4 separate regions of the Homo sapiens genome follow, and all the other regions are reported to be linked to region 4. The links are microRNA targets in miRTarBase. Many come from high-throughput screens and were not tested one by one. Region 4 holds a microRNA gene; each other region holds the end of a gene's coding sequence.
Evidence for each region. The annotated mature microRNA hsa-miR-3613-3p reads ACAAAAAAAAAAGCCCAACCCUUC and lies in region 4 at 1,782-1,805, shown strand. An mRNA with a match to its seed (bases 2 to 7 or 8) in the 3' UTR can be bound and repressed. Matches are read on the target gene's strand: a 7mer-m8 pairs with bases 2 to 8, a 7mer-A1 pairs with bases 2 to 7 and ends in A, and an 8mer does both.

Region 1 (3,117 bases), not on the chromosome of region 4:
TCTTGCATACCATTCCTAGTTCTAGGTGGCATGAGAGTTGGAGCCCAGCTCTTCAGGAGCGAGTGACTAGGAGGAAACTCCATGGGTCTCTTGCCAGCCACGAATACCTAAGAAAATGCTCTTCTCTCAGGCCCATCTCCCAGGCAATGTATCAGTGAATACATATGTAAAGTGTATGTCAGAAAATCGTACCAGATACTGAGTATCCAAAATATAAGCCTTAGGGTGGCAGGCAGACACAATAATTACAATATAGAGTGACAAGCGCCATAGAAACAGGTAAGGTTGGAAGTATTAGATTTAGTGTCTTGGCCTTAGAGAAGGGTTTAATGAAGTTATTTGACCCAGGTTAAGATCAACTGCCAGTATGATAGTCAAATTTATTACCTCTATTCCTTCTTCATACTTTCCCATCCCAAGGATTATTAATTGGGTTCCCCTAACATTTTCTCTCCCTTTCAAAAGCCCCAAGTAGTACTACTACTACTACTGGGGAACAGGAGATACAAACGCTTAACTAAGCGGCGGGCGGGGGTGGGGAGGAGGTGAAAGCAACTCCTTAAACCAACGTTCAGCATTCCAAATTTTAGCAGCTGCCAGGGAAATATATTTGCTCTCTTGTATTACTGACAGTTGTAATTACATAGGAAATCTTCAAAAGGGGAAGTAATTTGGATAATACCAAAACGTTATTTCCCTTTAATACAGATAACCCATATTTTCGCAGTTGAAATGATGCTTTTAACTTCCTGCCTCCTCCATTCCTTGAAAGTCGATTCAAAACATTTATGGTCACCTAGCAATGGTTCAATTCAGTCCAAGTGCTTGGAAAACCTGATTACAGGCATGGGCCCATTCCCCAGGAAAGTAAATGAAATAGTCACAATTTTGAATTTAACTTCCTGGGGAAAGGATGAAGGTAGGCAAGTACCTCTGAAAACCTGTACAGACTCCAGAATAAAAAAGTCCCAAATCTTTTTCAAAAAGGTATGAGTAAAAGGATCTGATATCATTGTACATATCCTTGCTCCATGCTGCTGTTGCCAAAGGATAAAAAAATAATTTGAGGTGGGACATACTCAGCAATTTCCAGTTGGATTCCCAGTTGAGTATTTTGCAAAAAAAGCATTAATGAATGAAATTTTTAAAAATATCTAAGTATATCCGATCCCACATACTGTACAAACTAGCTTAGAACAGTGGGATATGTAACTGATGATATAAAGGAAACAAGCTTAACAATTTTTCTTTTAGTTCCTACATGAACTTTCTAATACTGCCATTACTGAAGTTTACATGTTTTCATCAAGGGTTTTAGAGATGCATAAGAGAAGTATCAAAGTTAAGTTTAATAAAGTAAGTTCCTTCCATTTTGTAATGTATAAAATAATACCATTTAAACAGGCAGAAACTAGCTAATCTGCATTTATAGAGCATAGTTTTTTGGGTGGGAAAAAAGCATTCTTTCATCATTTCACCTTTACTAGAAGAAACAGACTTATGATGGTTCTTACTATTATTTTTCAACTTTAGAATTATTCATTCAGTAGAAGCTGTATTTCAAGTACCCAACCATTCTGTTTTTCACTTTCAATGTAATCTTCAAAAATTACATGAGATATTCAACATACTTTATTATAAAATAGGCTTTGTATTAGACGATTTTGCCCAACTGTAGGCTAATGTAGTGTTCGGAGCCCTTTTAAGGTAGGCTAAGCTATGATGTTTGACTTTTGGTATTTTCAACTCACAGTGGGCTTATCTGGACCTAAACCCATCATAAGTTGAGAAGCATCTGTATACCCAACATTGGTTATGTATACTTTCATTAAATACTCATTTGAAAAATAAAGCTTTCTTCACATTAACCCTGTGATGTAGGTCTTTAATTTTTGAAACTGCAAGAAACTGCAAAACAGGTTCCAAGATGAGCTCTTACTGATGTATATGGTATAATACGGTATGGCCAAAACCACTGCTTATGACCTCTCAAATATTCACACATCAAGGCCAGGCGCAGTGGCTTATGCCTGTAATCCCAGCACTTTGGGAGGCTGAGGCGGACGGATCCCTTGAGGCCAGGAGTTCAAGACCAGCCTGGTCAACATGGCGAAACCCCATCTCTACAAAAAATACAAAAAATTAGCCAGGCATGGTGGTGCATACCTGTAGTCCCAGCTACTAGGGAGGCTGAAGCAGGAGGATCACTTGAACTCAGGAGGCAGAGGCTGCAGTGAGCTGAGATTGCACCACTGCACTCTAGCCTGGGTGACAAAGTGAGACCCTGTCTGCCAACAAACAAATATTCACACATCACCCAGTATTAAGGAAGGGTCATCATTCAGAGAGGTTTTTCTGAGATAATCTATTAAATTACAATTTATAAAGAAATGTTTATAAATTTGTATGAAGTTATAAATTTATAAATATAAAAGTATAAATCCATATAGAGCTGTTTAAACAAGAAGTTTCCCTCTGAGAGGATTACAGACTATGCAATCTGCTACATGTGATTTCAGATAAATGATAAATTATACCTAATGTGTTAAGTATAACAATCAATTTTTGATATTTAAATTATCCTAAAACCTGTTGAGTGTGAATCCTCTTAAATCTTTCTTTTCTGTTTATGCTTCTGGCTGAGAATGGAAGAAGGGACGGAGGCTTCAAATGACTGAAATTGTTCAGCTGGTTTCTTGTGACCGACCACTGTAAAGTATTTTTCACCAGAGTCCAAAGGCAAGATAAAAAGTCTCTGACTTGAAATCAGAATCGATCTGCTGATCTGCTAGCCACAGCTCGAATATTGCCATAAACCTTGGAAGGAGGATTTCCTGCAAAGGGGAAAAAAAAGTATATACACAAATAAACTCACATTTATAGCGCCTACAGTTGTCCCTCAGTGTCTAAGGAAGACTGGTTTCAGGACTCCCACAGACACCACAATCCTTGGATGCTCAAGTCTCTTACATAAAAAATATGCACATTAACTACCCACATCCTCCCATATACTTTAAATCATCTCTAGATTACTTATAATACCTAATACAATGCAAATGCTATGTAAATAGTACTGTATTGTGTTTTAAAATTTGTATTATTTTTAATTTGCCATTA
Region 2 (3,101 bases), not on the chromosome of region 4:
CTGAAAGAATAATTGGTGCCACAGACAGCAGTGGAGAATTGATGTTTCTCATGAAATGGTGAGTATGCAGAGATTGTTACATTTGAAAGTAAGAGTAGCTTTTTTTTTTTAATTTGTGAAATGGTTTTTCATCATTAGGTAGGGAAAAACTATCTGCTGAGAGGATGATTCTGGTTACTTTTACTAGTAGTGTTTTAAAGCAAGGGTCAGCAAACTGTGGCCTGTTTTGAAAATGAAGTTTATTAGAACATAGCAACAAGTAACATAACTCTCCTGGAGCACTTCAATACCTTTTGTTTGGACTATTATTTCTTAAATGAATGGCTGTCGGTTGACATGAACAACTTCGACTTGTAACTGAATTTTTCTTTTTCTTAAAACAGGAAAGATTCAGATGAGGCAGACTTGGTGCTGGCGAAAGAGGCAAATATGAAGTGTCCTCAAATTGTAATTGCTTTTTATGAAGAGAGACTAACTTGGCATTCTTGTCCAGAAGATGAAGCTCAATAATTGTTCACATTGTTCTTTTATATATATTTATATATATATATAAAAATTGGGTCTTAGATTTTGATTTACTAGTGTGACAAAATAACTACATCCTAATGAAAATCAAGTTTGATATGTTTGTTTTGAAAGTAGCGTTGGAAGAGTTGTTGGGGGTTTTTTGCATCCATAGCACTGGTTACTTTGAACAAATAAATAAAAGCTTTCTGTAGTTGCTTCCTTTATCAGAAAAGAACATTTGATACCATGGTATATCATTTCCTCTTCATTAAAGAACAGCTTTTCTAAATGTTGGGGGAAATGTCCATAGTCATTACTCAGTCAAAACTTGTGTTCTCATGAGCCTAAGGACCATTCTAGATTTATTACGTGTTTTTTGTGTGTGTGTGTGTGTGTGTGTGTGTGTGTATCCATAAAATGCATATGTAAATTTTTTTTTGTTTTTAAGCATTCACCCAAACAAAAAAATCACAGGTAAACCCATGTTTCTGAGATGCCATTATTCCAAGCAAAATAAGAGATAATCCCTTCAAGTTAAATTGAAAATTTTCCTGAAACCATACATTTCAAGTGAAATAAGTAATTCTAGATAGGACAATTTAAATTGGATAATTTTAAAGTGTCTATAATTGCAGTGGTTTATTTGCAAAATTCCTAAAAGGAAAAATTTTATCACTGCCATCACAGCAGGTTTCCTCATCCAGATGAGGAAACTAGACAAATGCTAGTGTGTTTTAACTAGCTAAACAAAACTAAGTTAAATGAACATTTAAAAGTTTCCCTAGCGGGCCATTCCTTAGCAAAATGTTGGAATCCCTGTTGCTACATTGACTAAAAGGTCATGATGAATGGAATATGTAAGACTTGGCTCATAGAAACCTAATCAGATGGTTAGAGGTGTTGGCAGTTTAGGACCTGCTGTCATAAATGTGTGAACAACCTTTTGTAACCTAACCTATTGACCTGCATGTTTTTTCTTTACCCCAATTCATTACATGGAGGCTCAATCTTGAGTTTGCTTTACTGGTTCAGCAAAAGCCAGGAAGAACAACTTTGTAGTAATCAAAATGTTATCCAACTGTATATTGTTTACTTTATTGTAAATACTGGTGAACAGTGGTTAATAAATAGTTTTATATTCCTTTATGCAATTATTAGACTTTTTTCTTTATTTGATATGCCTTTACAGTAGAAATAGAAATGCCCACACTCATTGGATTATCTTTGTTTATAAGTTAGATGATACCAGTAAGGCATTACAGTACATATCCTAGATCTTTTGAGCTTACGAGTTTTAAACTTGAATATGTATTTCCACAGGAATGTTTCCACAGTTGGGAAATAAAAGTTTCATGTGATGCCTAGGGTCAATTGTCTCATTAAAATGAGGTTTTAAATTCTGGTTTGTTGTAACTGTCTTCTAAAGAATGTAAAGTATTCTGATAGGGCTCAGTGTGATGATAGACACATTTTAATTGATTTCCAAAATCCATACAGAAAAAGGTAAATAACTGATGTTTATTAAGTACCTCCTTATATATATATATATATACCCACCACTGCTCTCAGCGGTGGGTTCACAGATGATAGAGAACCTTCTATTCATATTAGTAGTTGGTGGCCCTACATTCAATTTTACTAAGGGCATTTCTGAAAACAATATATTGTCCTTTGGCCATGCATGGTGGCACACACCTGTAATCCCAAAATTTGGGGAGGCCAACGCAGGAAGATTACTTGAATCCCAGAAGTTTGAGATCAGCCCGGGCAACAGTGAGACCCCCACCTCTACAAGAAATTTTAAAATTAGCTGGGTGTGGTGGCTTGCACCTGTAGTCCTTGCTACTTGGGAAGGTCCCTTAAGCCTAGGAGTTTAAGGTTACAGTGAGCTCTATGTCAATACCACTGTGCTCCAGCCTGGATGACAGACTGTTTCTCAAAAAATTTGAAAAATATTGTTTTTTTATATTCTCTAGTGTTTGTATTAGTTTCTTATTGGTGCTTTAACAAATTACCACAAATTTAACCCATTTATGGCTGAAAATAGTTCTGTAGGTCAGAAGTCCAAAATTAAGCAAGCTGAAGTCAGGTTATCAGGGGAATTCCTTCTGGAGGCTTTGATGGCAGAATCTTTCCTTCTCTCTTCCATTTCAAAAGGCCACGTATATTCTTTGGTTCCTGGCCCTTTCCATCTTCAGAATCAGCAAGCAGTGGAGCATCTTGCATCATCTTTCTCGCCCTTCCTCTCTTCCTCTTTCCATCTCTCCTGTCTACCACGGTGTATTATGGAAGGATTGAGCCAAACCATTCATTCAAATTCTTGAATTCCTGGAGCTTAGATCTTTAGCTGAAGAGAAAACCCTTTTTCTATCATTTCTACCCTCTGATGTTTATGTAATAGGCTTCTTGTAACAACTCAGATGCTACAGAAGTAAGGCCACCTCATCAATTTCCTTGCTTCAAACCCGAAGTTCAATTGATACCCATATCTCTGGATTTCAAGACCAGCCTGGCCAACATAACAAAACCCCCTCTCTACTAAAAATACAAAAATTAGCCAGGCATGGGGGTGTGTTCCTGTAATCTCAGCTGCT
Region 3 (3,105 bases), not on the chromosome of region 4:
TTTTACACACCTAAGTGCCACCAAGATAGAAATGATTTGCTCAACAGTGCTCTGGACATAAAAGAATTCTTCGATCACAAAAATGGAACCCCCTTTTCATGCTTCTACAGTCCAGCCAGCCAATCTGAAGATGTCATTCTTATAAAAAAGTATGACCAAATGGCTATCTTCCACTGTTTATTTTGGCCTTCACTGACTCTGCTAGGTGGTGCCCTGATTGTTGGCATGGTGAGATTAACACAACACCTGTCCTTACTGTGTGAAAAATATAGCACTGTAGTCAGAGATGAGGTAGGTGGAAAAGTACCTTATATAGAACAGCATCAGTTCAAACTGTGCATTATGAGGAGGAGCAAAGGAAGAGCAGAGAAATCTTAAGACGGTGGCCAAATTAAAGTGCTGGCCTTCAGATGTCTGTGATTTCTGCAACTGAGGACCTAATTATGCCTGTCTGCAAACTAATAATGTAAAAGGTAATAATTAAAGTATCATATTTTCATGTGGGAAAAAATTTAAAAGCCTCATTTTGTATTCTATTTATTTCTATAAATACATACAAATTCACCATCTTTTCTAATCCCAATCTCTTTCCAAATGAGCTAAGGAAGCACTGTTTTTTTTCCTGTATAGCAAAATGAGTTCAAGATATTCTTTGCCTAATTTCAGCTCTAGCTAGAACCAGTCAATATGGAAATAAACAATGAGGGTATCTAATCTACTGAACACTGAACCATCAGCCTAACTCTATGCAATATAGTCATACTAAAATATTTCTCATAAAAAAGTTCTTAACAGTTTGTTCACTATACAAAGACAAAAATCTGGTAGAAAACTTAAGAAAACATGGAGCTAACATATTTATTATAGTTTTTTTTTTTTTTCCTTTTTGAGATGGAGTTTTGCTCGTCGCCCAGGCTGGAGCACAGTGGCACAGTCTTGGCTCACTGTGACCTCTGCCTCCTGGGTTCAAGCAATTCTCTTGCTTCAGCTTCCTAAGTAGCTGGGATTACAGGTGTGCACCACCACGCCCAGCTAATTTTTGTATTTTTAGTGTAGACAGGGTTTCACCATGTTGGTCAGGCTGGTCTTGAGCTCCTGACCTCAGGTGATTTGCCCGCCTTGGCCTCCCAAAGTGCTGGGAATACAGGCATGAGCCACTGCGCTTGGCTTTAGTTTGTTCTTTACCAGTCTAGACAGCAGAGGAAAGCTGCTGCCTAGAAAATTCACTAAGTTTAGAGTTACTAGTATTTAGCCTTGTCATGTACCATGTAATTTTTCTTTCAGTAACATTTTTCTAGTTAATTAAGCTTTTCATAAGCTCATTTCACTTTGTGCACTTTCTGGTGGGAAAAATGGGCCAGAAATATGAAGAAGCTATACTGGATTTTAACATTCATCTCAGATGATCCACATCGTATTAGGCTGGTGCAAAAGTAATTCCAGTTTTTGCTGTTAACTTTTAATGGCGAAAAACCGCAATTATTTTTGCATCAACCTAATAGAAAAGAAGTCCCACATGGATAGTCAACAATTGTCTGTACTTTAATTAATGAATCAACCATGGTTATTAAATGATGTCATAAGGCTCTCAACAAATGCTTTCCAGGTTGATTAAGCCGAATCTATGAGTGGAAAAGAGATTTTGGTCTGATTTTCCAAAGTGCCTCAAAGTATCTTTAAAATTTTATTATACTCAAAAATCTTAAATTATGGACAGTGGAATGAGACATTTGAAGCTACTTTTGTATGTAGATGTAATCAAACAAAAAACTGATTCTAAGTCAGTTTAATCCCTTTTAGCAATTAATTTCGACACATATTACTAAATTAGCTGAATACAGCAATATTGACTTGATGAGTAATGAATAATCTTGGTGTTTTCCTTTCTAGTGTGCAATGGTGGAAAGAACATGTGTCTCAGAGTAGGATTTATTTGACTTTGTAGGCCATAATTACAACTTTGGGCAAATAAGCTAACCTGTGTAAACCTTTCTTTTCTCATCTATAAAATGGGGATAACCCGTTCTTTCACGCAGTTGTTATTTTATGGAATAAGCAAAGTAGGGCAGGTGAAACTTTAGCTTAGCTTCTAGCATCTAGTAGCAGTGCTCAAAAATGTTAGATCATTTATTTAAAAATCTGCTAGGTTATAACATTCAGTGAGCCTTGGTACTTTTCACTGGACAGCTGGTATAGAGGCTAGGGATAGGGAGCTGCAGTTCATTTTCCATGCCCCTACCTGAGTTCTCTTGGCTAAATGTGATACGCATTTAAGGCCCAGAACCTGCTGTTTAAAAGGTTGTGGTAAACTATTTTGTATACCAAAGACTTCTCTGTAATAAAGTATGTAAGTACACATGAACATTTGATGTGCACGCACATTTTAAATCATCTGCACATTGAGATTCTACACTTTTCTCAAGGGCACATCTCTATTCCGTTTTTGTAAATTTGACTTCTACCTAACAATATGCAGTTGCTGGGATTTTTTTTTTCCCTAACAAATTCAAAACTGCTAATTTAAAATATAAAGCGTGTGTTTCAATTACCACAGTTTTCCATTTAGATAGGAGCTACCTGATTCATTCCAGCAAAGAGAGAGATTATCCCTGGAGAACAAAGTCAATTCAAAATTATTTAAACCATTTGGCAAATAAATAAAATTTAAGTAATTATTTGCTTAATTGCTCAGAAATACTAAGTTGTTAATGCCTATGTGCATTAATGGTCAAAGAAAAGCCCACACTTACCTTTTGCAATGTTTATGAGAACTGAAAGCAAAACCAGTTTGCTTCTAGCCTAACTTCATTTCTAGGTTCTGATCTTCAAACGACTTGGAAAAAAGTCTACTTACCTATTGCATATACATACATACATTCATACATATATGTATATACATATATTTCTTAAAATACAAGCATATAATTCTTTATGCTTAAAGGAAGTAAATATTTAAACATACATTCCTTTAATATTCATCACTTTACTGGGGTAGAAAAATTGGCTTTTAAGGTATAATAGTTTCAGATTTTCAATCAAGTATTCTTAGTCATTACTGAAAAGAACTCAAATTCAGCTAAATTTTGATTATTAGCAACACCGGCT
Region 4 (3,117 bases):
GAGGGATAGGGACGCTCCCATTGTGCAAGAAGGAAGTATAGCCGGTTAACAGCTCCATCAAGTTCTACTAGAAGGAGTGCCTATGTAAATGAAATTCTGCTTTTAAAGTGCCTATTATATAAAGGTCTCTAGAAAACTCAAGCCCTGTTCTACAAGCCCTAGCAGCCTGACAATTCACTAAGCATAGGAGAAGGGAAAAAAAAGTAGGAAAAAAGTGTGGAAGCCCCTTTCTTCCTTTGTAATATGAATGTTTGGCTATATTTAAGATAAATACCACATAAATAATTGCTAAACGTGAATTCTGTTTTTCTAAGTTTTAACAAAATATGCAAAGAACAAAGACCACCAATGAAAGTGGATGGGAACATACGTATTCTACACACAGTTCCATTTTGGAAGGTTCTAGGGCCTATTGAAATTGGGTGTTTAAAAAAAAAAGATAACACAGGAAAATTATTGTAGTTTACCTCTGTCTCCTACAAGCTGATGTATTTGGCAGGGTTACTATTTCCCAGGGCAAAGCAGGTCTTTTTTTTCACGTTTTGACTAACGAACTAGAGGCTACTGCAAAGAAAGAAGAAAAAGAACAGTATTAACGCATTTATTTGCACAGCACCCCAATCTTGACCCTCAATTTTTTCAATCGCCCCCACAAATAAAGCCCGGCTGTTTAGACCTGGTGAACCGCCAGGAGCCTGGAGCTCTTTGTATTAAGCAGCTTCTCGGTTAGGGCGCCCTCCCCCGGCGCCATGCAACCAAACGCTGGCGGCGCGCTGTAACCTAAGGCCCACACCCGTCTTTTCTTTTCTAGGGGATGTGGAGACGCTGGTAGCGGGGCCAGGAAGGCTCCGGACGGAGCAGGTTTTCTGGACCACAGACACACTGCCCCGGCGCCCTCCGCAGGCCGCTCCTCCCCAGGCCCATGACAGTGCCCCGCTGGTTTCTGCCGCGCTGCCGGACTGGAGCTCAGACGGCCTTCGCCAGCCCCCCCAACCCACGCAGATCCCTGCTGACCTGGGCAACTCCCCACCCTCGCTGAAGGTTCGAGGACCACCCCGCTTTCCCGAGAGGAGCCGGGCGGCGGGTACTTATCTCCGACCTCCGGCTAGTGGGAAAGGCCGCGCGACCGCCCGTCCTCCAACTACAGGGACCGCACGGTACGCGCCAAGCACAGCCCCAAAATGGACTCGCGGCTCCGGCTAGCTCCGCCCCCTTCCCTCTCCCGCTTCCCCTTCCCCTCCCGTCCCTTCCCCCTCCCCTCCCGTCCCTTCCCCCTCCCCTCCCGTCCCTTCCCCCCTCCCCCTCCCTTTCCCCTCCCCCTCCCCCTCCCTTTCCCCTCCCCCTCCCCCTCCCTTCCCCGTCGCCCGCCTCCGCCTGCACCTCCGGCCCCGCCTCCCCGTCCCGCTTCGCCTGTGTCCCGCCTCCCCGGCCGCGCCTCGCCTTGGCGGAGGGAGCCGGGTGGTGAGACCGCGTTCCTTCCGGCGTCTCCAACCGCCGCCTGCTCCCGCCGTCCACCCGCGCGGGCCGCCTGGGACGGGGAGGGCCGGGCTGCGGGCTTTTCTCCCTTCCAGAGTCCTGCGCCCGCCCAAAGCCCCCCCGCAGAGGCTGGGCAGCGGCTCCGGGAAGTGGACGCCGTTTGCCCAGACGGTGGGCTCGACTGAAGCGGCGCGGTCCCGGGTGGGGCCGCCCGGGAAGAAAGTCTCCCAGTTAAGCTGCCGTGCAATTAAGATGGTTGGGTTTGGATTGTTGTACTTTTTTTTTTGTTCGTTGCATTTTTAGGAACAAAAAAAAAAGCCCAACCCTTCACACCACTTCATCCGCATCTCAAGACCAGAAGCCGACCCCAGCGGCTTGGGGAAATGGAGCCCCGCACCCCACAAGGGGGAGGGTGGGACGGGCACCTCCGCACTGCGCGGCCTGCGGAGTCACCGATTCGCGTTGGGAGCGCGCCAGGAGCGCCAGGGCTCTAGCCGGGGGCTCCGGGCAAGGCGCAACCAGAAAAGGGTTCAGTATCCCCCATCACCCCCACCCCCAACCGTACCCTCTTTCTTTGCGGGCTTTAGGCAGGACACCAGAGACCCAATTCTATTTAAAATTCTCTTTTAAGAAAAGGAACGCCTGTTTTTGCCTTTGGGGGAAAGGATGAACTTTCAAATTGGCTTTAAATTATCCACCACTAACAGTTACTCAGTCGATAACCTGACTATTCTGACGTCCACCTCCCGTTTGAGGACCTTGCCCAATAGCAAACGTACTAAGCACTTAACCAGTGAACGGTGTGAAGGATGCAAACATGGATGATGAAGGAATGGCTCCTCCAGAATTTACGATCTTGGGAGAAGTGAGGCGAGTATAGAATCTCAGAACACGCTGTAGGATTGAGTTCGATCCCAGTTGAGGAAGTTTGGGTTTGGGGAGGAAATAGGTTATTTTGGAGAAACGGTATTCAAAACCTACCATAAATAGCAGTACAGCCCGTTGACTAATAATGCTTAGCCCAACCCCCGTAAAAAGCCCCTGGCCACATCCGTCTCCTGAGATTCCCACTTCTCTGTGTGCATCTCCCTTCCTGCTATAAGAAACCTAACTTTGCCTTCGTAGAACACTTCTTTTAATTTCTGTCATTCAGTCTCATAACACTGTGTAAAAGAAATTATGATCTTCATCCTATATAGATGAGAAAACAGGTGAAGTGACTTTTCCAAGGTACAAAAGCAAGAGGCAGAGCTGAGGCTAAAGGCAGCTTCCAGATATGGGCTCTTTCTACAGCACCATAACTGTCAGTGACAAAACTGCACCCCAGTACCTTACTAAATTTAGTGTTTTTAGGCCAGGCACGGTGGCTCACGCCTGTAATCCCAGCACTTTGGGAGGTCGAGGCGGGCAGATCACCTGAGGTCAGGAGTTCCAGACCGGACTGACCAACATGGTGAAACCTGGTCTCTACTAAAAATACAAAAATTAGCCGGTCATGGTGCCGTATGCCTGTAGTCCCAGCTACTTGAGAGGCTGAGGCAGGAGAATAGCTTGAACCCGGGAGATGGAGGTTGCAGTGAGCCGAGATCCTACCACTGCACTCCAGCCTGGGCAACAGAGCAAGACTCCGTCTCAATAACT

Region 1: miRTarBase lists PNO1 as a target of hsa-miR-3613-3p. Seed matches in the 3' UTR shown: 7mer-m8 at 2,136-2,142, 7mer-m8 at 2,127-2,133 and 7mer-A1 at 1,603-1,609.
Region 2: the mRNA of CBX3 is a reported target of hsa-miR-3613-3p. Seed matches in the 3' UTR shown: 7mer-m8 at 664-670, 7mer-m8 at 880-886 and 7mer-m8 at 941-947.
Region 3: the mRNA of KCNMB3 is a reported target of hsa-miR-3613-3p. The part of its 3' UTR that is shown has no 7-base or 8-base seed match.

Annotation. Positions count from the first base shown.
Region 1 is chr2:68,174,452-68,177,568 of GRCh38, reverse strand. It overlaps PNO1 (partner of NOB1 homolog), which reads right to left. Exons shown (of 7, transcript NM_020143.4): 7 at 1,331-2,834. The coding sequence ends at 2,767. Among named protein-coding and RNA genes, the nearest start is that of PNO1, 18 kb to the right of the region's middle. RefSeq lists an enhancer at 1,782-1,951.
Region 2 is chr7:26,211,699-26,214,799 of GRCh38, forward strand. It overlaps CBX3 (chromobox 3), which reads left to right. Exons shown (of 6, transcript NM_016587.4): 5 at 1-58; 6 at 384-1,909. The coding sequence ends at 510. Among named protein-coding and RNA genes, the nearest start is that of CBX3, 12 kb to the left of the region's middle.
Region 3 is chr3:179,240,177-179,243,281 of GRCh38, reverse strand. KCNMB3 (potassium calcium-activated channel subfamily M regulatory beta subunit 3) reads left to right here. Exons shown (of 3, transcript NM_171830.2): 3 at 1-511. The coding sequence ends at 378. Among named protein-coding and RNA genes, the nearest start is that of KCNMB3, 9.4 kb to the left of the region's middle.
Region 4 is chr13:49,995,114-49,998,230 of GRCh38, reverse strand. It overlaps MIR3613 (microRNA 3613), which reads left to right and starts at 1,730; the gene lies at 1,730-1,816. TRIM13 (tripartite motif containing 13) reads right to left here and starts at 1,189. Exons shown (of 2, transcript NM_213590.3): 1 at 468-1,189. DLEU2 (deleted in lymphocytic leukemia 2) reads left to right here. Exons shown (of 14, transcript NR_152566.1): 11 at 812-1,157. RefSeq lists silencers at 1,453-1,582, 2,173-2,222 and an enhancer at 1,763-1,892.